Linked DNA regions of Homo sapiens. The protein of the gene in region 1 purifies or fractionates together with the protein of each later gene. This does not show direct contact. Each region holds a gene or a part of one and is shown in the gene's direction. Other genes may lie near its edges.

The links.
Region 2: the proteins of PTPN14 (region 1) and CRLF3 purify together in Homo sapiens (affinity purification with mass spectrometry; one large-scale study listed by BioGRID and IntAct). This does not show direct contact.
Region 3: the proteins of PTPN14 (region 1) and DCLK1 purify together in Homo sapiens (affinity purification with mass spectrometry, with the first as the bait; one large-scale study listed by BioGRID). This does not show direct contact.
Region 4: the proteins of PTPN14 (region 1) and KIF2A purify together in Homo sapiens (affinity purification with mass spectrometry, with the first as the bait; one large-scale study listed by BioGRID). This does not show direct contact.
Region 5: the proteins of PTPN14 (region 1) and ANKRD50 purify together in Homo sapiens (affinity purification with mass spectrometry, with the first as the bait; one large-scale study listed by BioGRID). This does not show direct contact.
Region 6: the proteins of PTPN14 (region 1) and MAST3 purify together in Homo sapiens (affinity purification with mass spectrometry, with the first as the bait; one large-scale study listed by BioGRID). This does not show direct contact.
Region 7: the proteins of PTPN14 (region 1) and KIF13B purify together in Homo sapiens (affinity purification with mass spectrometry, with the first as the bait; one large-scale study listed by BioGRID). This does not show direct contact.

What each region holds. Positions count from the first base shown.
Region 1 is NC_000001.11:214,548,803-214,552,962, reverse strand, and holds the start of PTPN14 (tyrosine-protein phosphatase non-receptor type 14), read left to right. Parts: upstream 1-1,360; 5' UTR 1,361-1,780; exon of another isoform or gene 1,781-2,011; intron 2,012-4,160. UniProt on the Homo sapiens protein: Protein tyrosine phosphatase which may play a role in the regulation of lymphangiogenesis, cell-cell adhesion, cell-matrix adhesion, cell migration, cell growth and also regulates TGF-beta gene expression, thereby modulating epithelial-mesenchymal transition.
Region 2 is NC_000017.11:30,784,439-30,786,692, reverse strand, and holds part of CRLF3 (cytokine receptor-like factor 3), read left to right. Parts: intron 1-661; coding exon 662-774; intron 775-1,800; exon of another isoform or gene 1,801-1,910; intron 1,911-2,249; coding exon 2,250-2,254. UniProt on the Homo sapiens protein: May play a role in the negative regulation of cell cycle progression.
Region 3 is NC_000013.11:36,124,883-36,128,382, reverse strand, and holds part of DCLK1 (serine/threonine-protein kinase DCLK1), read left to right. Parts: intron 1-2,226; 5' UTR 2,227-2,245; coding exon 2,246-2,621; intron 2,622-3,500.
Region 4 is NC_000005.10:62,358,206-62,361,705, forward strand, and holds part of KIF2A (kinesin-like protein KIF2A), read left to right. Parts: coding exon 1-94; intron 95-3,036; coding exon 3,037-3,127; intron 3,128-3,260; coding exon 3,261-3,324; intron 3,325-3,500. UniProt on the Homo sapiens protein: Plus end-directed microtubule-dependent motor required for normal brain development. May regulate microtubule dynamics during axonal growth. Required for normal progression through mitosis. Required for normal congress of chromosomes at the metaphase plate.
Region 5 is NC_000004.12:124,706,233-124,709,732, reverse strand, and holds part of ANKRD50 (ankyrin repeat domain-containing protein 50), read left to right. Parts: intron 1-3,500.
Region 6 is NC_000019.10:18,096,326-18,100,577, forward strand, and holds the start of MAST3 (microtubule-associated serine/threonine-protein kinase 3), read left to right. Parts: upstream 1-1,452; 5' UTR 1,453-1,467; coding exon 1,468-1,506; intron 1,507-2,429; coding exon of another isoform or gene 2,430-2,440; exon of another isoform or gene 2,441-2,602; intron 2,603-4,252. Other genes in the region: IL12RB1 (interleukin-12 receptor subunit beta-1), read right to left, coding at 2,430-2,440.
Region 7 is NC_000008.11:29,066,778-29,071,070, reverse strand, and holds the end of KIF13B (kinesin-like protein KIF13B), read left to right. Parts: intron 1-304; coding exon 305-567; 3' UTR 568-3,793; downstream 3,794-4,293. UniProt on the Homo sapiens protein: Involved in reorganization of the cortical cytoskeleton. Regulates axon formation by promoting the formation of extra axons. May be functionally important for the intracellular trafficking of MAGUKs and associated protein complexes.

The sequences.
Region 1 (4,160 bases):
CCCGGGCTGGTGTCGAACTTCTGAGCTCAGCCAATCCCCCAGCTTTGGCTTCCCAAAGTGCTGGGATTACAGGTGTGAGCCACCGCGCTTTTTGGTTTCCAATTCTCTTCCCCAAGAGGCCAGGAATTTTTGCATGAGTTGCCGGACACTGAAGTGATTTGGGACAATACATTGTGTGCCAACGACTTCAAGGTCCCTTTTCAACAAAGGACTGGAATCTTACCGAGATAAATCCCAAGACATGTTTGTAGCAATGCAAAGGACCACAGAAATCTAGACAAATTATTTAATTTTGCAGCTACAGAAACCTAGGATCTCAGGGGCTGGGATACTCCTCAGTTATCCAATCGGGCAGGGCCTAAAACCCAGGTTCAGTCGCCTGGCTCCGAGCTTTTTCCATCATACCAGCTGCGTCTCATTAACTCCACCTCCGAAAGTGCTAAGGAAGTTCCCTCCCAGTGCCTACCCAGGCAGGGTGGGGCGATTCTGTGGCATGGAACAAACCGGGAAAACGACATTTTCCAACTCTCAGCACACAGGCTGCTTTTTATCATTCCTACGGGGCGGGAGGGGGCAGGGAGAGAAGGCTAAGACACCGGGTCCAGTACCCAGAGATTCTAGGGAGAGATCTCTGAGATTGCCTACTTGGTGAGGCCACCTTACTTTCTCCTGGTCTGTTTTCCCCTGTGGGGTGGCTGCATGAAACGTCCTGCTTGGAGGGTTCCCCAATATAAGGTGGACTATTCTGAATGTAGGTCGGGGTGAGCAAGTTCCTGCCGCCGCCCCGTCTCTGCGGTCCTCGGAAGTCTAGGTGGGCTCTTCCTTGCCTTGCCTCTTTCTCCCCAACGGCGGGAGCAGCCCAGGGTTGGGGTGGCTGCGGTCGCCTTGCTCTCTCCACTTCCACGTCTCTTACTCCAGGGAGTTTCATCCGGTCCTCCGTCCTCGGCCCCCACCTTTTAAAACATTTTCCAAAACTACCCCATTAAAAGTGTGCGACTTCTCCGGGCCTGCAGAAGGAGCTCCTGCAGCCCGGCATTCCTCGGATTCCAGCGCTGTGACGTCCCCAAGGACGGCGCGCCTCCAGCTCGGGAGCTCGGGAGCTGGGGCTCCACGTTTCAGCGCGCGCCCGCGGCGCCCCCGGCGCGCGCCCTCCCGGGCCGCATTCCTCCCCGCCCCCGGCCGCGCGCCCAGCGCTCCCTCCGCCTCCCGGCCCCCAGGGCCGCGGAGCCCGGCTCTGGGGTGGGGGAGCCGTGGCCGCCGGCGCCTGCTCCGTCCCCTCCCACTCGCACGGCCCCTTCCTCCCTCCTCTCCCGGCCGCTCGCATTTCCTGCCGCTCTGGCTCTCCCGGCCCCTCAAAGTTCTTTCCAACTTTTTCTCGGCGGAGTGAGCGCAGCGGGCGCAGACTCGGGGGCAGGTTGCTGTGCTTCTCCGGGCTCAGCCGCCTGCTCTCCTGGCTCAGGTCCTCGGGGAGCCCTAGACAGACATCAAGTGGCCACTGGCGCTCCTTCCCCTCCCAGCTGAGCCATCCTCCCCGGCCTCCTCGGGCGGGACAGCCCCGTGCTTAGGTTTTTCTCCTTTTCTCCCCCGGTGCGCCTCTGCTCGGACTCTCGCGCCGGGATCGCGGCGGAAACCTCCCTCCCCTTTCGCCTCCTGCGGCTCCTTCCCTTCGCCCCTCCTCCGCCAGTCACTGGAATCAATTCCGTGGGGAATCGGCTCCGCCGCCGCGAAGGACAGCCTTTCCGCGCGGGACTCCGGGGCGCCACGGGGGCCATGTAAGCAGGTAAGCCCCGTCCAAGCCGGGAGTTGGGCCCGAGGTTGGAGGCCGCCTTGGCGCTCCGGGCGCCCTGCAGATGACTTGGGCAGACGCTGGCAACGCCAACTTGCGATTGGCGCCCCGGGACGCCTGGCAGGGCAGCCTGGGGCGCGGGGTGGCCGGGCCGCAGGGGTGTTATCTCGCGGTGGGAGCTGCCCGCGGTGAGGCGCAAAGCTGGTCCCGGGAGCGAGCTGGAAGGTGAGCGCAGTCTGGGGAGTTTGTGGTTAAACCCACACCCTGGTCCCCTCTCTCCATTCCCTTCTGCGTTTTGGGAACGAGAGAGGGCCTCGGAAGGGCAACTAGAGATACCTAGACCTTGGGGGCTAGAGGATGAAAGACGAACGACGTCGCGGTCGCTGCAGCGGTAGGGGGATGCAGCTGCCCGACGCTCCCAATCACACCCCACCACCACCGGGAAGGAATCTTGAGGGGAGCGGAGTTTTCCTGCCCTCTCACTAGGCCCCAGTGGTGCCACCGAACTCCTGGGCGTCGAGGCTCCTACTTGGGTGGTCGAGCTGGCTCGTAGAAAAAAAGCTGTGGCCAAACAATTTCAGATCAGGTCTTCACCTCAAACTTCCAAAGTTGTAGGTATTAACAGCCTCTCCTTCCCCACGTGACCCCCAGATCTCAGGTTTGAATACTTGTAAATGGGGTTTACACCTTTTCGTTTGGAGAGAGCAGTGAGGTAACGCTGCCCCTATCTCCCTTTCCCTCTCACTTCCTTGGGTTCTTGTTCTCCAACCTTCTCATCCCCACCTACAATTTCAGAAATTGTGGGGTTTCCGCTTAAGTCTAGGGACTGGCTGTCGCAGGTTCTTTGTGAAGGTGAGGAATCTCTAGACTGCAGGTGCGGGCAGTTACAGAGTTTCCACCAATGTGTTAACTTCTTGAAATGGATTAGTTTACTCATTCATCCAACAAACCCAGCTTCTACTCTGCTAGGAACAGGATAGAAAGATGCTAAATGAGATCACAGGGCAGGAGTCTGCAGCCTAGTGGAGGAAACTTGAAGGCCGGTGAAGAATGATAATACATGGAAGAGGGGTTCTGTGAGAGTCTGAGGCGAGCTTGGTCCTGGTGAAGGGTGCACTACACTTAGAGGATAGAGGTTGTGCTCCTCTGGAGGGTGTATTCCAGGCAGAGGAAACAGCTCGTGCAGAGTGAACACAAGAAGGACAGAAAGTTTCCCTAGCCATCTGGGGGCCTGAGGGGCATTTATGGCCATGTTGGTGCAGTGTTGCTGGGATAGCATTCTCTCCACCCCCAATATCAGAAATAAATCTAGAAGCACGTTAGCCACTTATGGGAACCACAAGTAGCTTACCGAGGAGCCAAGGCCTCCCTAATTGGATACACCTCCATGCCTGCTGCTGTTTTACCACAAGCAGCTGTTGTATGATCATCTACATTTTAATTGGCCCATGCTCGGTTTCATTAAAATGGTATTGATTCTTCTTTTTTGTCCCCCACATTCAAGCAATGATTCCTTTTTTAAAAAGGCTGTTTGACAGCCGTAGGTGTGGTAATACCGCAGCATTACGGACCTTGTATTATAAAGTTAGCTAATTGTTTGGTGATGAGGTTGAAGCTTGTGCCATAGAAATGACAGCCTTAATGAGCGGGAGCTGAATGGCATGATGCCCTTTTTGCCCAGTCTGAATGGGTGGCCATGAGGTGCAAAATTCGTTCATCTGTATGTCACTAAGTTTGTTATACTTTTCTCTGCTTTTAAGTCATTACTATTGCTTTAGCACAGTTGTGCTAAAGTCGTTCTTTTCTCTGAAACTTTATGAAAATAGAAAACACTATCTTGCACATTTTTGTAGACTAATGGCCCAGGATTCAGCAAATCCTGCCTAGAAAAGTTTCTTACAATGCAGTAGCATTCTGTACGTGGTTTGCCTTTCAAGGGTGTCTCTTCACTGGACTGAAGTGGTGTTGTAGTATTGTTCATAGTGGCTGAGTCCTGGCTGAGGTGGCAGACATCCAGCTTTTGGTGACCTCAGGCCAGTACATCAGAGTGGGAAGAACACACTGACTTCCTACAACTTTGGGTGTTTATCCAAGCCCCTCTACCAGCATCTTTTCTTATCTCAGGAACAGCCCCTTCACAGAAGTTTTCCTGAAGGTGTAGGGACCTGCATGAGAGAAATGGCTGAAGAGAAGCCCACTCCCACTAATCCCAGACATTTGCCCAGTTTCCATCATTGGCTTAAACATGTAATTATTATTAACACTTGAGTTATTCAGATTTGTGCATACTGTGTCATGCTGGTAGCTGTAATAGAAAGGACAGTTAGGCTTTTAATAGGGAAGCACCATAAGGAATTCAGAGAAAAATCAGAAT
Region 2 (2,254 bases), on another chromosome or scaffold:
GATTCTAGAGTCAGAATGCCTGTGTTTGAGTCCTGGTTCCACCAGTCATCAGCCAGGTAGTCGGGATCAGGTTATTTAGCTATTTTTAATCTTTTTTTCTTTTCGTGCCTCATTTTCCTCACTTATAAAATGGGTATGTTAAAAATAGCACCTACCGGCTGGACGCAGTGGCTCACGCCTGTAATCCCAGCACTTTGGGAGGCCGAGGTGGGTGGATCACAAGGTCAGGAGTTCAAGACCAGCTTGGCCAAGATGGTGAAACCCCATCTCTATTAAAAATAGAAAACTTAGCCGGGTATGGTGGCGGGCACCTGTAATCCTAGCTACTTGGGACGCTGAAGCAGAGAACTGCTTGAACCCGGGAGGCGGAGGTTGCAGTGAGCCAAGGTCGCACCACCGCACTTCAGCCTGGGTGACAGAGCGAGACTCCGTCTCAACAAAAAAGAAAAAGCACCTACCTCATAGATTGTTGTAAGAATGATAGATAGATATAAAATAATTAGAACAGTGCCTGGAGTATAGCAAGAACTCAATCATGGTTGCTGTACTATTTAGAAAAAAACAATTGTGGTGAGATTGCTCTTTTTAAGCTAGTGGCTGTTAAGTATCATTCATGTTATATTTTTAAAAGTATGAAATGACCTTTCTACTTCATTTACAGAGTTGAAACTGTGGGACAGCCAGACAGAAGAGATAGCATAGGAGTGTGTGCAGAAAAACAGGATGGATATGACTCTCTGCAGCGGGATCAAGCTGTGTGCATTAGTACAAATGGTAAGAGATAAATAACTGTCATTCTCTTGGAAATATATTAATTATTTTAGTAATATGTGAATCTGTTCCAGTTCCATACATTTATAGTAGGAGATGAGAAAATTTAGGTATTTTTCTTTTTCTTTTTTTTTTTTTTTATTATGAAGTCTCACTCCATCACTCAGGCTGGAGTACAGTGGCATGATCGTAGCCCGCTGCAGCCTGAAATTCTTGGGCCCAAGCCATCCTCCCACTTCAGCCTCCTGAGTAGCCGGGACTACAGGTGCATGCCACTGTGACTGGCTAATTTTTTTTATTTTTACTTTTTTGTAAAGATAAGTTGTTGCCCAGGTGAGTCTTGACTCCTGGTTTCCAGCAATCCTCCCACCTTGGTGGCCTCCCAAAGTGCTGGGATTACAGGCGTGAGCCACCGTGGCTGGCTGAAAGTTTTGGTCTTAATGACATAATTTATGTGACTACCATGTACCAGGCATTGTTCTAAATTCTACAAATAATAAATCATTCAGTCTACATCCCTAGTGCTCTTTAAAAATCGCTAGCCAGAGGCCGGGCGCGGTGGATCACGCCTCTAATCCCAGCACTTTGGGAGGCCAAGGCGGGCAAATCACGAGGTCAGGAGTTCAAGACCAGCCCGGCCAACATAGTGAAACCCTGTCTCTACTAAAAATACAGAAAATTAGCCAGGTGTGGTGGCGGGTGCCTGTAATCCTAGCTACTTGGGAGGCTGAGGTAGGAAAATCGCTTGAACCCGGGAGGCGGAGGTTGCAGTGAGCCGAGATCATGCCAGGTAACAGTGTGAGACTCCGTCTCAAAAAAAAAAAAAAAAAAAAAAATTCACTAGCAAGACATGTTAATAATATTTTGTGGTGTTGGCTGGGCACGGTGGCTCACGCCTGTAATCCTAGCACTTTGGGAGGCCAAGGTGGGTGGATCACAAGGTCAAGAGATCGAGACCATCCTGGCCAACATGGTGAAACCCTGTCTCCACTACAAATACAAAAATTAGCTGGGCGTGGTGGTACATACCTGTAATCCGAGAGGCTCAGGCAGGAGAACTGCTTAAACCTGGGAGGTGGAGGTTGCAGTGAGTCCAGATCATGCCACTGCACTCCAGCCTGGGCAACAAGAGTGAAACTCTGTCTCCAAAAAAAAAAAAAAAATTGTGTTGGTGAGTCAAGAATTCGGTAGAACAAGATTCTTTCTTGTTTATTCCATAAGAAATAGTCTTGCTATTTCACAGGAGGTAATTTTGTAACACTGTCAAGTTTCTTTTGATGACACTGATATGGGAAACTCATAGTCTCTGCTGGAAGAGTACAACCCTGGACAGAACTCTAAAATCTATGTCCAGTTGGCATTCCAGATTTTTTAAAATCTGAATTAGGAAATGAGCTGTGTTACCAGTAATCTAGAAACTATTTCAGATCTCTTAGTTATTGCTCACATGTAAATGACTCTTTACCTTAACATTTTAGGTGCA
Region 3 (3,500 bases), on another chromosome or scaffold:
AGTAAATCTGGGTTCAAATCTCAACCCCTCAGTTATAATTTTGGGACCCTGGATAAATTCCATATTCACCTGAATATTAATAATATTACCTACCTTGTTGGATTAATATGAGGTTTAGAAGAGAATTTTTAGCATATTATACAACTGGTTGATGAGTAATAGTGTCAGGTACCTCCTAGACCTTCAGTAAATATTGCTTTCTTTCACTTCATTTCTGGAGTACCAAATCTCTAGTCATGCTTTCAGGTGTGAAATTTTAGCCACTCTGAATGGATCAGAGGTCAGTTTACTGAGGGCCAAAGAAAGGTTGGGGAGACAGTGGTGCATTGGTGAGTGTTCACTGACCTTCAGAAAGGTGATGTCCATCTAATATGGTGGGACTTGGGGAGTGCTTGTAAGGTTCTTGCTCCAAATTTTCCATTTTCCTGATATTCTATTTCAACATGCCTGAAATTTTGTCATTAAAGTGTCTTTCCTTTGAATGCTTTGGTCTTTCCACTTTCTAGATTGTCTTGTTAAACCACAGATTCCCCTGCAAGGCTCCACAAACCTTTATCAACCAACCCCTCAGCAAGGATGAACTGGTCCTCCAGTCAGCTTGCTGTGGGGACCAGGGGGTACAGATGTACCTTTCAAAAGGTCATGAGATGGAGATCAGGAAGAAAGCAGGGGCCTCTCTTGCCAGAAAGGAAAGATTCTATTCCTGCTAGCTCTTTATGTGTCAGGGCCAGGAACACAAAAACAGATTTTATTAATAAAAAAATTAGTACTTATCACATGTCAGACACTATGATAAGAACTTCATGTGCATGAATTTATTTAATAGTTAATACTGACTGTGAGGTAGGTACTGTTCTCATTCCCATTTTGTGGTTGAGGAAATCAAGGCTTAAAGATGCTGAGCAAGTAGATTTTTCAAGCTTACACAGCTAGCATGGGGTCAAGTGTAAATCGACATCTTTAAGCCTCAATTTCTTCAATCACAAAGATAGTCTTAATGAAAGGAAGAACCAAGAAATGTACTTCCAAACATTTTTTCCTTTCTTGTTGTTCCTCTTCCTTCTCCTCCTTCTCTTCCTTTTTCTTCTTTTTTTAAACTCAACTTTTCTGAAGTACTAAATATAAGTAAATGAAGTATAGTGAATTTGCTTTTAAAAATATTGAATGTGTGAATATGTTGGAAAATCTTCTTTAAGTTGGTCCAACCTACAGATTGATTTAATTTGCTCTCCATCTGGCCATGGGGCACACAAACATTATGTAAAACTTTTACAATCTGACTGTTATGCTGCCTGCCCTCTCTTTCTGTCCCAGCCCACCATAGCTACTTCTCTTTCACTGTATGATGATATGAGAGCTTATTTTCTTCCTGCTACCAGGATTAGCCCTCTGCCCTGCAAGGAGCAGTGGGCTTTGGAGTCAGGGAAACCTGGAACAGAGTTGCTGGTACAAGCATTTCTCAACTGTATTACTTGGAGCAATTTAGGGGAAATTTTTCTGTGCCTCAGTTTCTTCTTTTGTAAGGAAGGACAATACTTTGGAAAGTTGTTGTGTCTATTGGGAATAATATCTGTTTGAAGCCTGATGAACCATGGGCAACCTAGGAGCTGCTTCTAACAAATTTGTGGCTGATTAATAAGCTGTTTCCACTGGGATCGGCCTCTTCTGCTGACAGCGTGCAGAGGAGCCTGTGTTTATTTTGTGGGAATTCACATCCCTTTCTCTTTCTGTCCCACTTGATAACTCATATTAAATGTGTCATCAGTTAAAGCAATATTTCCACCCAGCTGTTCTGAAGCAGACCCTTTGAAATCATGATCTCAAAATAACATCATCCCCAAACTTTGGGAGGCCAAAGGGGTTGGGGGGCGGGGGAGGATCACTTGAGGCCAGGGATTCAAGACCAGCCAGGACAATAAAACAAGACCCTCATCACTACTACTAAAAACAAGCAAATGAACAAAAAATGAAGGAAATTAACCAGGCGTGGTGCAGGCACCTGTAACCTGTAGTAGTCCCGGATACTCTGGGAGATTGATGCAGGAGGATCATTTGAGCCCAGGAGTGTGAGGCTTCAGTGAGTACTTCAGTGAGTGCCATCTCACTGCAGCCCGGTGACAGAGCAGGACCCTGTCCCTAACATAAAAAAAACAAAAACAAAAAAATATATATATATATATAACCTACATCAATATGTGTGTCTGCTTTTGTTTCTGGGGCTCGTAGGTCCTACTTGAAGTCCATCATGTCCTTCGGCAGAGACATGGAGCTGGAGCACTTCGACGAGCGGGATAAGGCGCAGAGATACAGCCGAGGGTCGCGGGTGAACGGCCTGCCGAGCCCGACGCACAGCGCCCACTGCAGCTTCTACCGCACCCGCACGCTGCAGACGCTCAGCTCCGAGAAGAAGGCCAAGAAAGTTCGTTTCTATCGAAACGGAGATCGATACTTCAAAGGGATTGTGTATGCCATCTCCCCAGACCGGTTCCGATCTTTTGAGGCCCTGCTGGCTGATTTGACCCGAACTCTGTCGGATAACGTGAATTTGCCCCAGGGAGTGAGAACAATCTACACCATTGATGGGCTCAAGAAGATTTCCAGCCTGGACCAACTGGTGGAAGGTGAGCGCTGTGAGATAACCCCCACGTGACCCTACAGGTTCCAGGCTCAGATTTCCAGTGTTGTAGCCGATTCGCATTTGCCCTCTGACAGTTGACATTCAGCCTTATGGCTGTGATCCTTATAGTTTCAGACATACGAATGTGCTATTGTGTAGAGTAAAAAGGAAAAAAAATTAATGGTATTGTCAGGTAGCTTATAATAATGTGCTAAGGGAAAAAGTCCCTAATTCTACAGCATTCTCTATTTTCTTTCTCATACCCATGCTGCATTAATTTTAAAAGTCCATTTTATCTCTTCAATCTCATAGTTTATATTCGTTTCTAAATGCAAATTAAACTTTTGCTATCACGATATCCGAAAGTACTTGAATTGAAAATGACAAATGGATCATGAAATTTTAGAGTTGAAAGGAACCTTAGATAGCTATCAAACCCATTAATTTTATCTTTGGAGTCTAAGGACCAGAAAATTCAAATGACATGTCGGTGGTTACGTGGTAAGATAGTGATGACCCTGGACCAAAACAGGTTTTCTGACAGCTCGTTCCACTGCGATGCTTCCTTTTGAGTTTAAAGGATTATTGTCTTTCTCTGATTTTTGAGGATATGCAGGGACTAATCTGTTCAGTTTAATTTTTTAAGTCCAATTTAGGTTAATAGTCATTATCTGTTTTAGACATTTAATGTGGAAATAGGACTGTTTGCGTCCACGGATGCAGCCTGGTATCTTATGCAAGCAGAGAAGGTCACCGACTCTGGGCTACACTTGCCTCAGGACTGACCCTGTTTGAACAGGGCATAAAGCCTGTCATTGCCTTAGAAATCATCGCCAATTAAAATGAGTTGGAGAAAAAAGACTGGGATTAAATGTATACCAAG
Region 4 (3,500 bases), on another chromosome or scaffold:
AACAAAAAGTAGATTTAACAAGGTACCTAGAAAACCAAACATTTCGTTTTGATTATGCCTTTGATGACTCAGCTCCTAATGAAATGGTTTACAGGTAGGTAAATTCATTTTAAATCAGAATTTTGTTCTTATGCCATGTGGTCATCAGCACCTTGAAATTTACATTGATTGTGGGATATTTCTTAAGAGGTGCAATATGCTGTTTTATTCTGAGTTTAAACAAAGAGAATGTAATAAATGCTGTAATGAATATTAACACTTGTTCTCTGTAATGCTCCCCAAAATCATAGTTTCCATTACTATTTGCTAATTAGCTTATTACACATATATATACATATATATACATATCACACAAACCATGTATATGGATAAGAAATTTCGGGAAAATGTTAACATTACCTCTAGGAATAGGATATGATAAGAAGACTTTTAATTTTTACCTTTTAATCTCTGTACTAATAAAGAAACTTGAAATGTTTGTTTGAGGCATGGTCTTGCTCTGTTGCCCAGGCTGGAGTGCAGTGGCACGATCACAGCTCACTGCAGCCTCGACCTTCCAGGCTCAGGTGATCCTCCCATCTCAGCCTCCTGAGTAGCTGGGACCACAGGCATGCACCACCACACCCAGCTAATTTTTGTACTTTTTGTAGAGTTGAGGTTTCGCCATGTTGCCCAGGCTAACCTCAGACTCCTGAGCTCAAGTGATCTGCCCGCCTTGGCTTCCCAAAGTGCTGGGATTACAGGCATGAGCCACTGTTATGCCTGGCCAAAATACCTGTTATCAGTTAATTATTAATTTATCTAAATCTGTATTTAGTATGTATTGTCACTTAAGGCGAAAAAGTTCCGTACTTGTATTTAAATTTGTCATCTTTAAGCTTGGAGATAGTTTTAGTACATGAGATTCTTGTATGTTTTCTGTATTCAACTTAAAAATAATTCAAATTTATCTGTGTTATACATTGGTATCTCAAATTTTTATGCCAGATTTAGATTTTCATACGTAAGTTTGCAAACATTCATTTCTAATAATTATAACACCAGTTTTAGCAGTATTGTTATTTTGGTTTATCTAGGAATATTACTGTCTTTGTAATTGCTTGAATACTATATCTGATTGCCCTTTTTCATAAAAATGCCTAGAAAGGAAAAAATTAGAGTTAATGAGACTAAGAATTGAAGGTGTTACAAAGGAAATACTTTTGAGACCAACTCTTTTTGTCTTCACCAAGTGTACTGGGTAGTCAGTTGTAAAAAAAAAAAGGATCAAATTAAAGGACATATGAATACTAGATAGAGATATTTGTGAAGAATATGTTTAAAGGGGAATCATAATTGTTAATTGTAGAATTTTTTTTTAGCTTTCTGAAGAGTCCACTTTTCCTTTTCATTCCCTCTTTCTACTCCTGCCTCATAAAATATAAGTTTGACTTTTATAATAGTTTTTAAGAAATTATTACAAATACAGGCATGTTTCTGTGTGTATGATTTAGTAAACATTGTGTTTTTACCCTATGTTTATGTTTCTTAACTTTATCAATATTTATCCTTCTCCTCTATCTCTTATACTTAACTATTATGGATTGAGGAGTTACATGTTTTTTTGTGGGTAGGGTTGGGAGGTAGGGGTTTGATCTACTTAGCAGGCTCATCCCTAGTTCTGTTTGACCAGAACTTTTTCCTGCTCCTTTTGTTCTGTACTTTCTTCAGTTTTGCCTTTTACAAAACAAAACAAAGACAGCAGTTATATAAAATGTTCTACTTGTAGATCTGTTTTCCATCTTTTTTTTTTTTTGTTTTTTTGAGGCTGAGTTTTGCTCTTGTCGCCCAGGCTGGAGTGCAGTGGCATGATCTCGGCTCACTGCAACCTCTGCCTCCCAGTTCAAGCGATTCTCCTGCCTCAGCCTCCTGAGTAGCTGGGATTACAGGCGTGTGCCACCACGTTCAGCTAATTTTGTATTTTTAGTAGAGACGGGGTTTCACCATGTTGGTCAGGCCGGTCTCGAACTCCTGACCTCAAGTGATCCACCCACCTCAGCCTCCCAAAGTGTTGGGATTACAGGCATGAGCCACCACGCCTGGCCTCCATCATACTTTTTAGTGTACTGCTCAGGGGAAAAGTACTTCTTATACCTTCCCACCTTTTTATTTTAACTCTAGCAGTGGGTTATACCAATACATTTGAAATATAATTCAAGGCCGGGTGCGGTGGCTCATGCCTGTAATCCCAGCACTTTGGGAGGCCAAGGCGGGCAGATCGCCTGTGGTCAGGAGTTTGAGACCAGCCTGACCAACGTGGTGAAACCACGTCTCTACTAAAAATACAGAAATTAGCTGGGTGTGGTGGCAGGTGCCTGTAATCCCAGCTACTCGGGAGGCTGAGGCAGGAGAATCACTTGAACCCGGGAGGCGGAGGTTGCAGTGAGCTGAGATCGCGCCATTTGCACTCCAGCCTGGGGGACGAGAACGAGACTTCGTCTCAAAAAAAAAAAAATGTAATTCAAACCATAATATTTAGGTATCCTTTTCCTAAATTGAGAGTGTCAACTTACTAATAGAATTCATTTTCCTACAAGCACAATTTATATTCTTTTTGCTTAAGTATAAATTACTTGTCTAAATTCAAGGTAATCAACATTTTTCTATTTATTTAGATGGTCTATAGATAATATTTTTGCAGTTTTTTTCCTCTATTAACTTTTTAAAATTGAGATTACCACTCTTGTTTATTCTGTTTCTGTTGAAATTATAATACTTTGTGTTTGTTTTTATTGTATATGCCTTATTGTGACCATTATTTATTATGGAAATATTGCTTGAAATTATGCTTTAAGTAGTTTAAGTAATTTTAGCATATGATATTTAAAATTCTTAAATCAATTCTTCGATATTGTTATTTAAAATTTTTAACAAAGATTTGTTTAGAATCTTGCTATTAAGTTTTATTTATTAATAAAATACTTTGTATTACTCAGCATTACTATTATTCATCAAAATATTGGTGACACATTCTGACTGATGCATTTTATTTTTAAGGTTTACTGCTAGACCACTAGTGGAAACTATATTTGAAAGGGGAATGGCTACATGCTTTGCTTATGGGCAGACTGGAAGTGGAAAAACTCATGTAAGTAATTTATTAAAGTTACATTCTGGTACGAAGCTACAGTTTCTTTTCCTTATAGCTTAATTCTGTGAACTAAATTCTTAAGAGTTATTCCTGAGTAATGTCTGTTCTTTATTTTCTTTTTAAAATATAGACTATGGGTGGTGACTTTTCAGGAAAGAACCAAGATTGTTCTAAAGGAATTTATGCATTAGCAGGTAACTGTCCTTTTTCCATAAAATTTGGAATATTCTTCTGTGGTATTATTCAGGTAACTTTGAAATAAGGCTTTAAAATATTGTTCAGCAACTATAATGCTATATTAACTGTCTATTATGTCAATTATAGGTTATTAGATTGCTTGAAAAGAACTATAAGATTATATATTCACAAT
Region 5 (3,500 bases), on another chromosome or scaffold:
TGGTAAGGGAAATTTGTTCTTATGGTAGAGAAGCACATTTAGCTGTCTGGAAATAGGTTACATTTTCAGAGGGTGAACTGAACTTAGAGTAATTATCAGTATAGCATCTAGTATCTTTTTATTTTTTTCCTTATAGTAGTAGTATTTTTTTAAGTAAGAAAGGTTTTCTTTAAAGGAGATTATTGGCCACTGAGAATCTGAAGAAAATTTGCTGATGAGTTTTGGGATTTATTCTCCTATTAACTAACTAATTGAAAAACTGGTATTTAGAAGTATGTGAATTTATAAAATAGCGAACATTTGGGATCATCTTACTACTTTTACTTTTAGTGAGTGGTACAAAGAAAGTGTTTTTTCCTAACTTCAGCAAAGCTTTTTTTCCATGGTAAATGGATTGGTCCAGGAAGTGAGCAAGTTGCTTTCCAGAGTGGTTTCAGATTCAAATCTGTTCAAGAAAATATAATTCCTTGAAAACATTTTTTTTTGCATATCATGCCTCTGCTCATTGTAAAAGTAGCAGGCAAATTGTTAGTTTGTGCTTCACTTCTGCTTGAATTACCCATTTTGCCATAAGCTTTTTCTCTACAATAACATTCTTAGCGGGCAAAAGTTTGTTCTCCAAAGATTCTGGTATACTGTGCACTGGAGGTTTGTGTGTGTGTGTGTGTGTGGCTCTCTTCTGCTTGAGTGTGTTTCTAGGAGAGATTTGAATCACTCTAAAAAGAGTGATGTTTGTTTTTATGATATCCTCAAATCTAATGGGGTGAAATCTATACATTTTGAAAGTAATATTGAAAATATTTAATAGTAATTACAGTAAACAGTAAGTGTCAGTCATTATTCTAAGTGCTTTACAAATATTAGATCATTTAATCCTCATAATAATCCTGTGAGGTAGTTACTACTCCCATTTTATAGATGAGGAAACTAAGGTACAGAGAGGCTAAATAAATTGTTCAAGGTTACAGACTAGTAAATGGCAGGGCTGAGATTTTAAATGTGTGTGTGTGTATGTGTGTGTGTGTGTGTGTGTGTGTGTGTATGTGTTAGTAATCTTAGAAATTCTCTGGGGGACTTGATGGGAAGAGGAGGGGTTTAGAAGGTTATGTATGGCAAAGCTGGAGAACAGGAGTTGTGTCACAGTGTGGTTTGAGTGTGGTTTTCAGATTACCCATATAGTGATAGAGGGAGTGGTATTCTAGAATGAGAGTTAGGGATGGTACAGAATTCAAATATGGGAGGAATTTATTAAAGTCAGCCAAAGGGATGTATCTTTGAGAGGTGTGATATTCTTGTAGACTCTTTAATATGTAAATTTAGTCCAATAAAACTAAAGGCAAATCTATTATCTTTTGTTGTTAGCCATCAAAGTCAGCGTTAAAACTGTTGTATCATTCTTAAATTAATGAGGAAATCTGTTAGTTGATGCCTGTGGCATGTGAGATGCAAGGTTTGATGGAGAGTGTTCAATATGGAATCACTGTACAGAATAAATAATGTAGTCTTTAATATAAAACTATACCTTTTAATAGAATTAAAACTGTACATAAGCAACTCTTTTCTTCTTACTGCTTTTTCTGAAGATACTAGTGGCAGAGCAGAATTTTCATTTCTTTGTGATAAGTAATTTCATAAGCTATTTAGGTTTATTGACACCTACCAATAACTTTCAAAGAGCTTAGTCTGAGGTGAACTTAATCTGATGTAACCAAGGTATGTAATTTATAATTTATTGAAATTCATATGTAAATTTCTGATACCTGAATGTTGAATGTTTAAAAATCATGTCTGATTACTGTATTTTTGATATATTCTGATCCTAAGCATAGCTTTCTCTATGGTATCATAGATTTTCCTGAAAAATAATTCTTTTATTCAATTGTTTCTTTTATTTTTTCTTTTTCCTGTGTGATTCTCAGTTATTAGCTAATTGAAGAGGAAGAAGAAGCAATTAGAGCTGTGTGTAAAAACCATACCAGCCCTGCTTTTCTGATTGACAGAAGGAGCCAATCACTTTGCATTCCCAGTTTACACTTTAATAAAAGAGAAGGCTTTAGTCTTTCTACTTGGACCATTTTGGTGCTCTTCACTGATTTCTTACTGGACTTTTCAAAAACCTGAGTCACTTTCTTTCTTCATCGTTAAAGTAATTGATCATGATATTAATTAGGGAACTATGGTATTGAAACACTCTTTTTGATCATTCATAGAGACACATTTCCATTACAACTGTGAAGCTATAATACAGCTATATTCACTTGCAAACCTGAGAGCACAATTCAAAGTTAAAAAGATGTATTTTTGTTTGGTATGTGATATTACATTATCTAGGCTTCTACTTTTGGACAAATAATTCAAGATTTTATTGTAGGTTCTATTATTGATTGACAGATTTCTTAAATAAGTCCTTTAGAGAATTTTAATAGGAACGTATTTTATTTAGGCATGGATAGATATAATTCAACAGGTGGAAAATGGGGCTGAAAACCATTGTTTCCAAAGAGTTACAATATTTTGAGGGAAATGGAAATGGAAGTAGCTAATTATAACATGACAGGAGATTAAATATAAATGTAAGCAAACAGCAGGAAAATATTTATTTTTCGCTTTTGACAAAAACTAAATCCAAAACCAGTTTTTGCATTATTACTTTTTAACCTTTAAATTTCTGCTAATATTGATGGTTTCATATACAGACTTTTCCCAATTTATAATAGTTCAACTTAAGATTCTTTGACTTTAGGATGGTGAGAAAGCAATATGTATTTAGTAGAAACCTTACTTTGAGTACCCATACAACTGTTCTGTTTTTTACTTTCAATATAGTATTCAATAAATTACATGATATATTCAACACTTCATTATAAAATAAACTTTGTGTTAGATACTTTTGCTCAAGTGTAGACTAATGTAAGTATTCTGAGCATGCTTAAGGTAGGGTAGGCTAAGCGATGATGTTTGGTAGGTTGAGAGTTATCAGATGCATTTTTGACTTAAGATATTTTCAACATATAATGGATTTATCAGGGTGTAATCCTATCATAGGTTAAGGAGCATCCGTATTCATGTGTGAAACAATTTTAATAGTTATAGAAAGTTGATAATGAAAAAATCTCAGTTATTCACAGATTCACAAAGCTGGGGAAATTGCAGAGAAGTGATTTACTTGATGCTTTTTAAATCCACTTATCTTTTCTTCAGTTTGCTTCTTAGCTTTCTTTAATTTTTTTTGTGCCTAATGATAGTAGATAGAATACGTGATACATGAAATTATATGGCTAAATCGTAATTTGTTAATTACTAGTTCATAATAATTAAGGAAGAGTGAAAGGAACTTCATCTTAATCTAGTGAAACATTGCCACTTTCTTCCCTTCTGACATGGTATAGTATATTCTATAGTTTTTTAGATATAGTTGTCACGAAATTTCTTCTGACATTCATTTATTTGTATGACAAATAATGAGAGTGTTCTCCGTTTGAAGCATAGTTCATTTGCGT
Region 6 (4,252 bases), on another chromosome or scaffold:
AGTAGAACAATTATCTTCAAATATCTGTGAGAGATGGTGTTTATGAGACACTTAGGGCAAAAAGGCAATCATCCTCAAAAAAGAAACTGACAACTGCAGCGGCTACCTGCTTTTGTAAGTAAAGTTTTATTGGCACCAGGGCCAGGATTAAAGGGAGGCAAACAAGGCTGAGTGGTGCAAGGACAAGGGTCTGATCATGTCTTAAGAGTTTTAGTGTTTTGGCCAGGCAAAACACCAAAACTCTTTGGCCTGCAATCCCAGAACTTTGGGAGGCTAAGGTGGGTGAATCACCTGAGGCCAGGAGTTCGAGACAAGCCTGGCCAACATGGTGAGACCTCATCTCTACCAAAAATACAAAAAATCAGCCTGGTGTGGTGGTGGGCACCTGTAGTCCCAGCTACTAGGGAGGCTGAGGCATGAGAATAGCTTGAACCCAGGAGGCAGGGGTTGCCGAGATCATGCCACTGCATTCTAGTCTGGGCAACAGAGAGACTCGTCTCATAAATTAAAAAAAAAAAAAAAAAGTTTTGGTGTTTTGGCCATATGCGGTGGCTGACACCTGTAATCCCAACACTTTGGGAGGCCTAGGCAGAAGGATCTTTTGAGGCCAGGAGTTCAAGACCAGCCTGGGCAACATAGTGAGATCCCCGTCTCTAAAAATAAAATAAAAAATAAAAGTTTTGATGTTTTGTTCATCATAAATGTTTTCATTAATTTTATGTTTTTAAAATATTATTTCTCTTGATGGCTGAGTTTTGTGGGGCCACCTTAAATTTTGCACAGGGGTGAGATCCTCACTCGCCTCACCCTAGAACCCGTTCTGCTGTGTGTACTGGGCACATTTTTTGTTGTTGTTTTGTTTTTGTTTTTGAGACAGAGTCTCGCTCTGTCGCCCAGTCTGGAGTGCAGCGGCGCTATCCCGGCTCACTGTAACCTCCGCCTCTTGGATTCAAGCGATTCTCCTGCCTCAGTCTTCTGAGTAGCTGGGATTACAGGCGCGCGTCACCACCCCCAAGTAATTTTTTTTTTGTTTTGTTTTGGTTTTTTTTGTTTAGTAGAGACAGGGTTTCACCATGTTGGCCAGGGTGATCTCGAACTCCTGACCTCAAGTGATCTGCCCACCTCGGCCTCCCAAAGTGCTGGGATACAGGCGTGAGCCACTGCGCCCGGCCAATGCGCTGGGCATATTGATTAACCTATCTTAGCCTCAGTTTCTTCATCTGCAAAATGGGGCTGAACGATGCTGCCTTACTTCTGAGAGGATTCATGCAAAATATTTACTTCTGCGCTCTGCTGGAGGGGCGGGGCCAGCTCGCCCAGTGGGGGCGGGGCCCTGTGGTCGGGCTCCCCGGGAGGGGCGGGGCCAGGCCGTGTCAGCTGACCGGCCTGGCCAATGGCACCTGGCGGCGGGGCCTGGCAGGCCGGGGCGGGGCCGGGGGCGGGCCTGGCGGCGCGGACTCCCGGGCCATGGACGAGTCGAGCCTCCTGCGGCGCCGCGGGCTCCAGGTGAGGCCCCTGCGCGGGCGGGCGGAAGGCAGAGGGCGCGGCCAAGTGGACGCGGCCTGAAAGGTGCCGGGAGGGGCGGGGCCTTCACGGGCTGTAGGGAAACTGAGGCAGAGGGTGGGGAACGCTCAGATCGCTTCTTTTTGACCACCCGCTTCTCAAAGTGCTTTTTCTCATGGTGGGAAGGGGGAAGGTGCCCCCTTGGACATCTAGGGAAACTGAGGCTCCAAGCGATGGCGTGGGAGGAAGAGGCTGAGGGCTCTGCCCCTCCCCACCAGCTGTTCTAATAATAATGCTAGCAACAGCAGCCAGAGAGCTCACCATATGTTCATGGTTGTTTTAGTCCTATTACTAGCGATGTATTAATATGAGTTCATATGTATTAATACCTCCTTGGGTCGTCGCTGCACCACTGTACACCCTCAGCTCAGCCCTACGACGACCTGGGGAGGTTGGGGCTGTCAGGCGCCCATTTGTCAGAATAAGGAAACTGAGGCTCTAGTCCCGGAAAGCCACTCTCCAGAGGTCGCCTAGCTGGGATTCGATCTGCGCCCTCAACCAGCTCTCTTACGGCACAAGGCGCTGCCAACCAGCAGTGTGACCTGGGGGGAGGGCACCCTTGCTTCTCTGGGCCTCAGTTTTCCAATGAGCCATAGGGTCCTCCTTTTACTGAGTTTATGTTTAGGAGGCTGTGTCATCAGGAGGTAGGGACACAGGCGTCGGGGACAGCAGAAGCCTAAGTTTGAAGCCACACAGGGACTACATGACCCCGGGCAGCCACCCTTTGACTTCTCTGGGCCTCAGTGTCCCCATTATAAGAAAAGAAAAACAGGAATTAAGATTTGGCCATTTTCCTCTGGGACTTAGACCACACCCTTAAGAAGCCACCAAGTTTTCAGGTAGGGAACCTGGGATTCAGCACTTACCCAACGAACATTTATGGAGCGCCTGCTGTGTGCCTGGCTCTGGAGAGGCAGCGGAGTGTTCTGCAACCTCTGGAGCTGCCCTCCTAGAAACCCCAACCTGTTGGGGGAGGTAGACGCCAGAGCAGCGGTGACCCCACGGAGTGATCAGTTGTGATAAGGGACTCACAGCAAGTGAAGGAGGCGCCTGACCCAGTCATTGCTGGGAGCCCTGGGGTAGAGGAGGCAGCCAAGGGTGGCGAGGCATTGCAGCGGGGGGCGGTATTTAGGGAAATGAAAGAGGTTGACAGAAGCTGGAACCTAGGGAGGACTGAGCAGGTGGGGTGGGGGTCGGGGACTGAGGTTAGCTCCGGGCGGGTTGAGGGGGTGAGAGGAATGGGGCCGGCGGGTCTCCAACCTGGAGCCGCACCGGTAGCTGCGGGACTGCGAACTCAGCAGGTGATGGGAAGCCAGGTCGGGAGTGGTCAGGGAAGGCACGGGCTGAGCTGCAGATCAGAGACACCCGGTCTCTGGCCGCGCGGGGGTGGGGCAGAACTGGAGGCGCTGAGGCCAGAGGCAAGAGTGGGGGACTTGGGCGGAAAGGAGGGGGCGGGGCGGGATTGGCGAGCAGCGTGGTGTTGGTGGGGGGGCAGTCCCGCCTCCAGCCCCAGTTAGATGCCAACCCGCCCGCAGCCTCTTAAAATAGAGAAACCGCCTCCGGGTAGGCGAATGGGGGTGCTGCTGACGTCAAGAAGTGGGGCCTGTTCCATGGTGGGGGGGTCAAACATTTCCTGATGGTAAGTTCTATGTTACAAAAGGGGAAACTGAGGTTCAGAGAAGCATAGCCACTGTCCGGGTTTCACAAAGTATAGGTGACAGAGTCAGACAGGATTTGAACCCACGCAGTTCCGGCTTCCTCTCCAAACCAACCCAGCACAGGCGTCCCTCCACGAAGGTGGAGGGATGAGCACGGATTCCCCGACTGAATGAGGGCATTCCGGGCAGAGGCCACAGCACGTGCAAAGGCCCAGAGGCATGTAGCCTTTCTTACCTGTTTATATGGGGAAACAAGAACTTGAACCTATTTCTTAGCACTAGAGGCTGATGGCCAGGACTTAATGCTTCCAGGGCCTTCAGTGCTGATTTTGAAGAGGTTAGACTTTCCCCCTAGGGTGATGGGGAGCTATGGAAGGTGCTGGAGCAGGAGAGGACATGCCCATATTGAGGGGCTGGGAAGACTCCTCTGGAGGGCTAGGAGCAGGAGTGGGGGAATCAAAAAGGGCAGGAAGCCAGGAAGGAGCATGGAATGAAAGTCTAAGTGTACCAGGTGTGGTGGCTCATGACTGTAGTCCCAGCTACTCAAGGAGGCTGAGGCAGAAGGATCTCTCTCTCTCTCTCTTTTTTTTTTTTTTGAGAAAGAATCATGCTCTGTTACCCAGGCTGGAGTCCAGTGGCGCAATCTCGGCTCACTGCAACCTCCACCTCCCGGGTTCAAGTAATTCTCCCTGCCTCAGCCTCCCGAGTAGCTGGGATTACAGGCACATGTCACCACGCCCGGCTAATTTTTGTATTTTTAGTAGAGACGGGGTTTCGCCATGTTGGCCAGGCTGGTATCAAACTCCTGATCTCAGGTGATCCGCCCACCTCGGCCTCCCAAAGTGCTAGAATTACAGGCGTGAGCCACCGCGCCCAGCCAAGAAGGATCTCTTGAGCCCAGGAGTTTGAGGCTATAGTGAGCCATGATCACGAGACCCTATCTCAAAAATAAAAATAAAGGTCCAAGTGGAAGAAGATTAAAATAATAATAAAATAATAGTAAAGTGGGAATAACCGTTCATATTAACAGG
Region 7 (4,293 bases), on another chromosome or scaffold:
ATGCTTCCACAAGGCACTCCCCAGGGCCCCCAGGGCCTGTCACCTCCTACCTGAGGCTGCAGGACTGGGGCTGTGCATCCTTGGTCACCACTGCTCACTGTCCTGGGAGGCGGTCACCCCAGGCCCTGGCCACATTCATTTAGCCAGTCCCTGCCAGACAATGGCCAGTGTCCGAGTGCTGGCTGTGTAGGGCCTGTGCGGGGGGGTGGCAGTGTGGGCACATGGCCTCTGCAGAGGTAAGGGAGGTGCAGGGGGCCGTCTGCAGCTCGGCTGCCCTCCATATCACCCTCTCCTTCCCCCGCAGGTAAGAATGACGGTTCCATCGGCGGGAAGCAGTACTTCAGGTGTAACCCTGGCTACGGGCTGCTGGTCAGGCCCAGCCGGGTCCGCAGGGCCACGGGCCCTGTGCGGCGGCGCAGCACAGGACTCCGGCTGGGTGCCCCCGAGGCCCGCCGGAGCGCCACCCTCTCGGGCTCCGCCACCAACCTGGCCTCGCTGACAGCTGCCCTGGCCAAGGCCGACAGGAGCCACAAGAACCCTGAGAACCGGAAATCCTGGGCCAGCTGAGCCGCTGCCTTAGGGCGAACTTTTCTGGGGGTGCCCGGCCCCTTTTGAGCCCTGCCAGTGACAGCCCTGAGGAGCCAGGAGCCCGGTGGCCCCTTCCCCAGGGGCAGGGCGATGAATGCTTTTTGCACGACACAGGGCTGGTGACCTCCCTGGGCCTCTGGAAGCTTTGTTTCTTCTGTACCCGGGTAAAGTGGGGGCCTCAACTGTGCCTCCTCAGGTGGATGGAAGGTTCTGGGTGCCCGCAGGGGCTGGGGGATGCTAGGACTGAGACCCTGGGTGGTGCAGCGCCTGGTGATCTTGCTGTGTGCCTGTGCCTGGGGCCTTATGTTGCTCTTTCTATCATTTCCATTCTGGTGGCCCCACTAATGTCTTAACCTAAACCATAATTGTAACCAGTGCCTTTCCTCCCCACTGGAGGGCAAGCCCCCCCACCCACCCAGGATGTCCTGGCTCACTCCGCAAGCCCCCCAGCCTCCCACCCTGGTCCCAGTTTCCCGCAAAGTGCCTCTGGGGGACCCCCCAGCCTCCCACCCTGGTCCCAGGTTCCACAAGTGCCTCTGGAGGGCCCTGGGCTCTGGCAGATGGTCCTGGTGCCCCAGACGGGGGCCGAGGGCCTGAGCCCCCCCATCCCTCCTCTGCCAGGGTTTCTTAGCGGTTTCTCTGTGGATGTTTTGGCATCTTTAGACACCTGGAAAGTCTCTTATGTTTGCCGTTTATTCCCTTCACAGAAGGCTTGGAATGTATTTATTTATATTTATTTTTTCAAAATCCGAAATCATTTGCGAGCCGCAATCGTCGTCTGCCTGTGTGGGGGGGCCCAGGGCCTGCCTTGCACGTTGCAGCCTCTCTGGCCATTGCAGAGCTGCTGGCCTCCTGCCCAGGTGGAGGGTCCTGGGGACGGCAGAGGATAAAGCCCCCTCCTCACATCCCTCTATTGCGGATCCACAGTGGCCTTACTCTTAACTTGGATGAGAGCAAAAACCTGGGAGAATGATGTGCTTCTGTAGTCGGTGACAAAGGAAGAGGCATTGCTACTTTATTTGGTGCACTTTTGGTTTCTAGGAAGGTCTTTGGGTCATTTTAACTTCTCGGCAACTCCCAGACTCTCAGAGTGTGGGGCTGGGGCCTGGCGGCTGGGCTGGTGCAGGGAGTGTGCTGGTTAGTCTCCAGACCCTCACAGCAGCCACGCCCCCAGGCCCACCGTGCATGGTGTGGGCGGGACAGCCGGAAGCTTCCGGGGTGGCCTCCACCTCCTGGCTGGGGCACTTATGCTCCCAGAGCCTTTGGTGCCAGGTTTGTGGGATGGGGGTTAGCGTCTATGTGTGGAAGGCCACCAATCTAGGGACAGGAGTCCTGGGTCAAGATTCACACAGCCACCCTTGGAGCTGGTTTCTAGTTCTCACATTTAGTCAACATCTAGAAAGCGCTGCGGAAGGCTCTGGTTCTCTAGGGACTTGAAGGCGCCAACAGAGTAGTCTCCATGGTGGGCCTGTCCCAGCCCTGGCTGCGAGGACAGGTTGTCTTTCTCTCCCCAGTTGGCGAGGGACACGAAGGCTGCGGCCGGGCTGGCAGAGGGCCCGGCCCCTGGGGGGAGGCACTCCTCCAGGGCTCTCCCTGTCCTTAGCCGATTTTGAGGGAACCCTGTGGCACCTGTCCCTGGATGAAGAGCTGTCACCTCTGCCTTGCCCTTTAACTCAACCCGCTTCCCAGCACAGCGGCTTTCTTTTTAAAACCTGTTTCACTGAGAAGTTTGTTTTTGGGTCCGCTGGTGTCACTATGGCCTGGGTGAGAGGCCAGCACTGCTGCTGCCCTGAGGGGAAACGCCTGGGCCGTGTAGTGGGGACGCTCTGGGAATGGTGGCGGACGGGCAGCGTGGGTGGGACCTGGCACTTCGTGGTGGCTGAGCCATCCACCCAGCAGCGGCCTCCTGTAGCACCATCTTGGGAAAGTCCTGGGGGACGTGTGTGTCGTGCTTTTTACCATCGGTTTGACTTACAGTGGAGTAGAACGAGCCAGAGTTCCTGACTTGAGCAGGTGGATTTGGGCCCAGGCCCTGTTCACTCTTGCTTCTCGGTGCGGACTAATGTCAGCTTGTGGCTGGGAAAGAGGGATGTGCAGTGACGTGGTCACCAAGGCAGTGAGCCCCGCTGACCCCGGGCCAGCACTTGGCAGGCAGGAGGTGCGGTCTCCAGAGTGGTGGGCCAGGGCGGGCTGGCCTCCGTCTTCTATCTTCTTTTCTTGCCTCCCTGACCAGCAGACTCACCTCCCAAGAACGCCTGCCCGCCCACCCGCCTTAGGACTCCCGATGCGCTCCTGGAAGGCCCCAGGAGTGGCACCTTAGTGTGGGTCGGCCCGCAGATGGCACCCAAGGCCGGGAAGGGCAGTAACTGCACACGCGGCGCTGTCAGAGATGGGGGTGGGGGATGCTTCTGGGGGCCCTGCCTCCCCATTGTGTGCCCAGAACATCCCTGGCCCCACCCCGCCACTTCCCTCGGGCCCTTATGAAGGACTGAGGCTCCAGGGTGAGAAGGCTCACTTCTGCCCCGGGCACTGCGTCCAGCAGCAGAGGGGACAGGGGGCAGGTGTGTGACTGGGTTCCTGGGTACCCAGGCCTGACCAGAGGGAGCGGGAGGGCAGAGGTGAGGAGGGGGAAGATGTTTCTGGGCCTACCAAGGTTCAACAAGAGAACGGAGCTGGGAATGTGACTGCTGGAGCCTGAGAGGTGGAGGAGTTCTGATCCCCCGTTACTTCCTAGCATTTTCTCCTCTTGCCTTAAAAGTTCCCTGTATGTGAAACGGGAAGTCCTGAGAGTGTGTGTTGGTGGCTGTGCGCACGCACACAAGACGGGAGTCACCCTGTGCTTCCTGCCCAAGATACTGACCCATTGAACCCCCAAAGCATCTTTCTCTCCACAAAGTCCGTGGTGCCTTCCTGGTGGGCTGCAGACACTAATGGTGTTGGGGGGTCTTGGAACAGCTTCTCTATGTGTGGATTCGTGTAAATGCGAAGAGTTCACATATAAAGAAGTGACTTTGATTCTGTGATTATATTGATTTGGTACACAGTAAATGGGAGTTTAAAAAATCCAAAGACTCTAATGACTTGTAAAGACTCTAATGATTTGTATCATGTAATGAACTAAACCACCTGTAATTTTGTACCGTATGTGTCTTTCCATCAAATGACCAACAGCTTCTCAATAAAACCAGACCATTTCTCACCTGCATCATGTCTGAGGCCAGTCTTGTTGCTTCTCCTTCCCCTCACCCCAACATAGGGTTTTGGGGCTCCTGGCAGGCCATCCTGTCATGGTGTGGCCTTGTTCTCAGCAAAGGTGGTGCGGGGCTTTTCCAGACTGAGACTGGGAGGAGGAGGATCAGGGAACAGCAGCAGGCCGTGCTCGCCTCCCCAGCCCATGGACTTCAGAGGCTGAACTCTTCATGATTTGGACTTAAGAGCCCAGGAGGCCCCCCGGTTCTGAGTCATCTTTCCTTGTTTGGACTTCAGCCCCTTACTGAAGCCAGGAACCATGGAAACTTTCTGGGGCCCTTCGACCCCAGGTAAGTGGTGCTACTGGGAGACAGGTGACCTGGTAGGGACTCTCCTTGGCTCTCAGGCATGACTCCACTGTCTGCTGTGACCTTCGTGTTGGTCCCCACACTGGACCTCCCCTCTCCCCTCAAACTGGGGTGAGAGGACTTCTTTCCCCTGCTGCAGAGGTGGGCA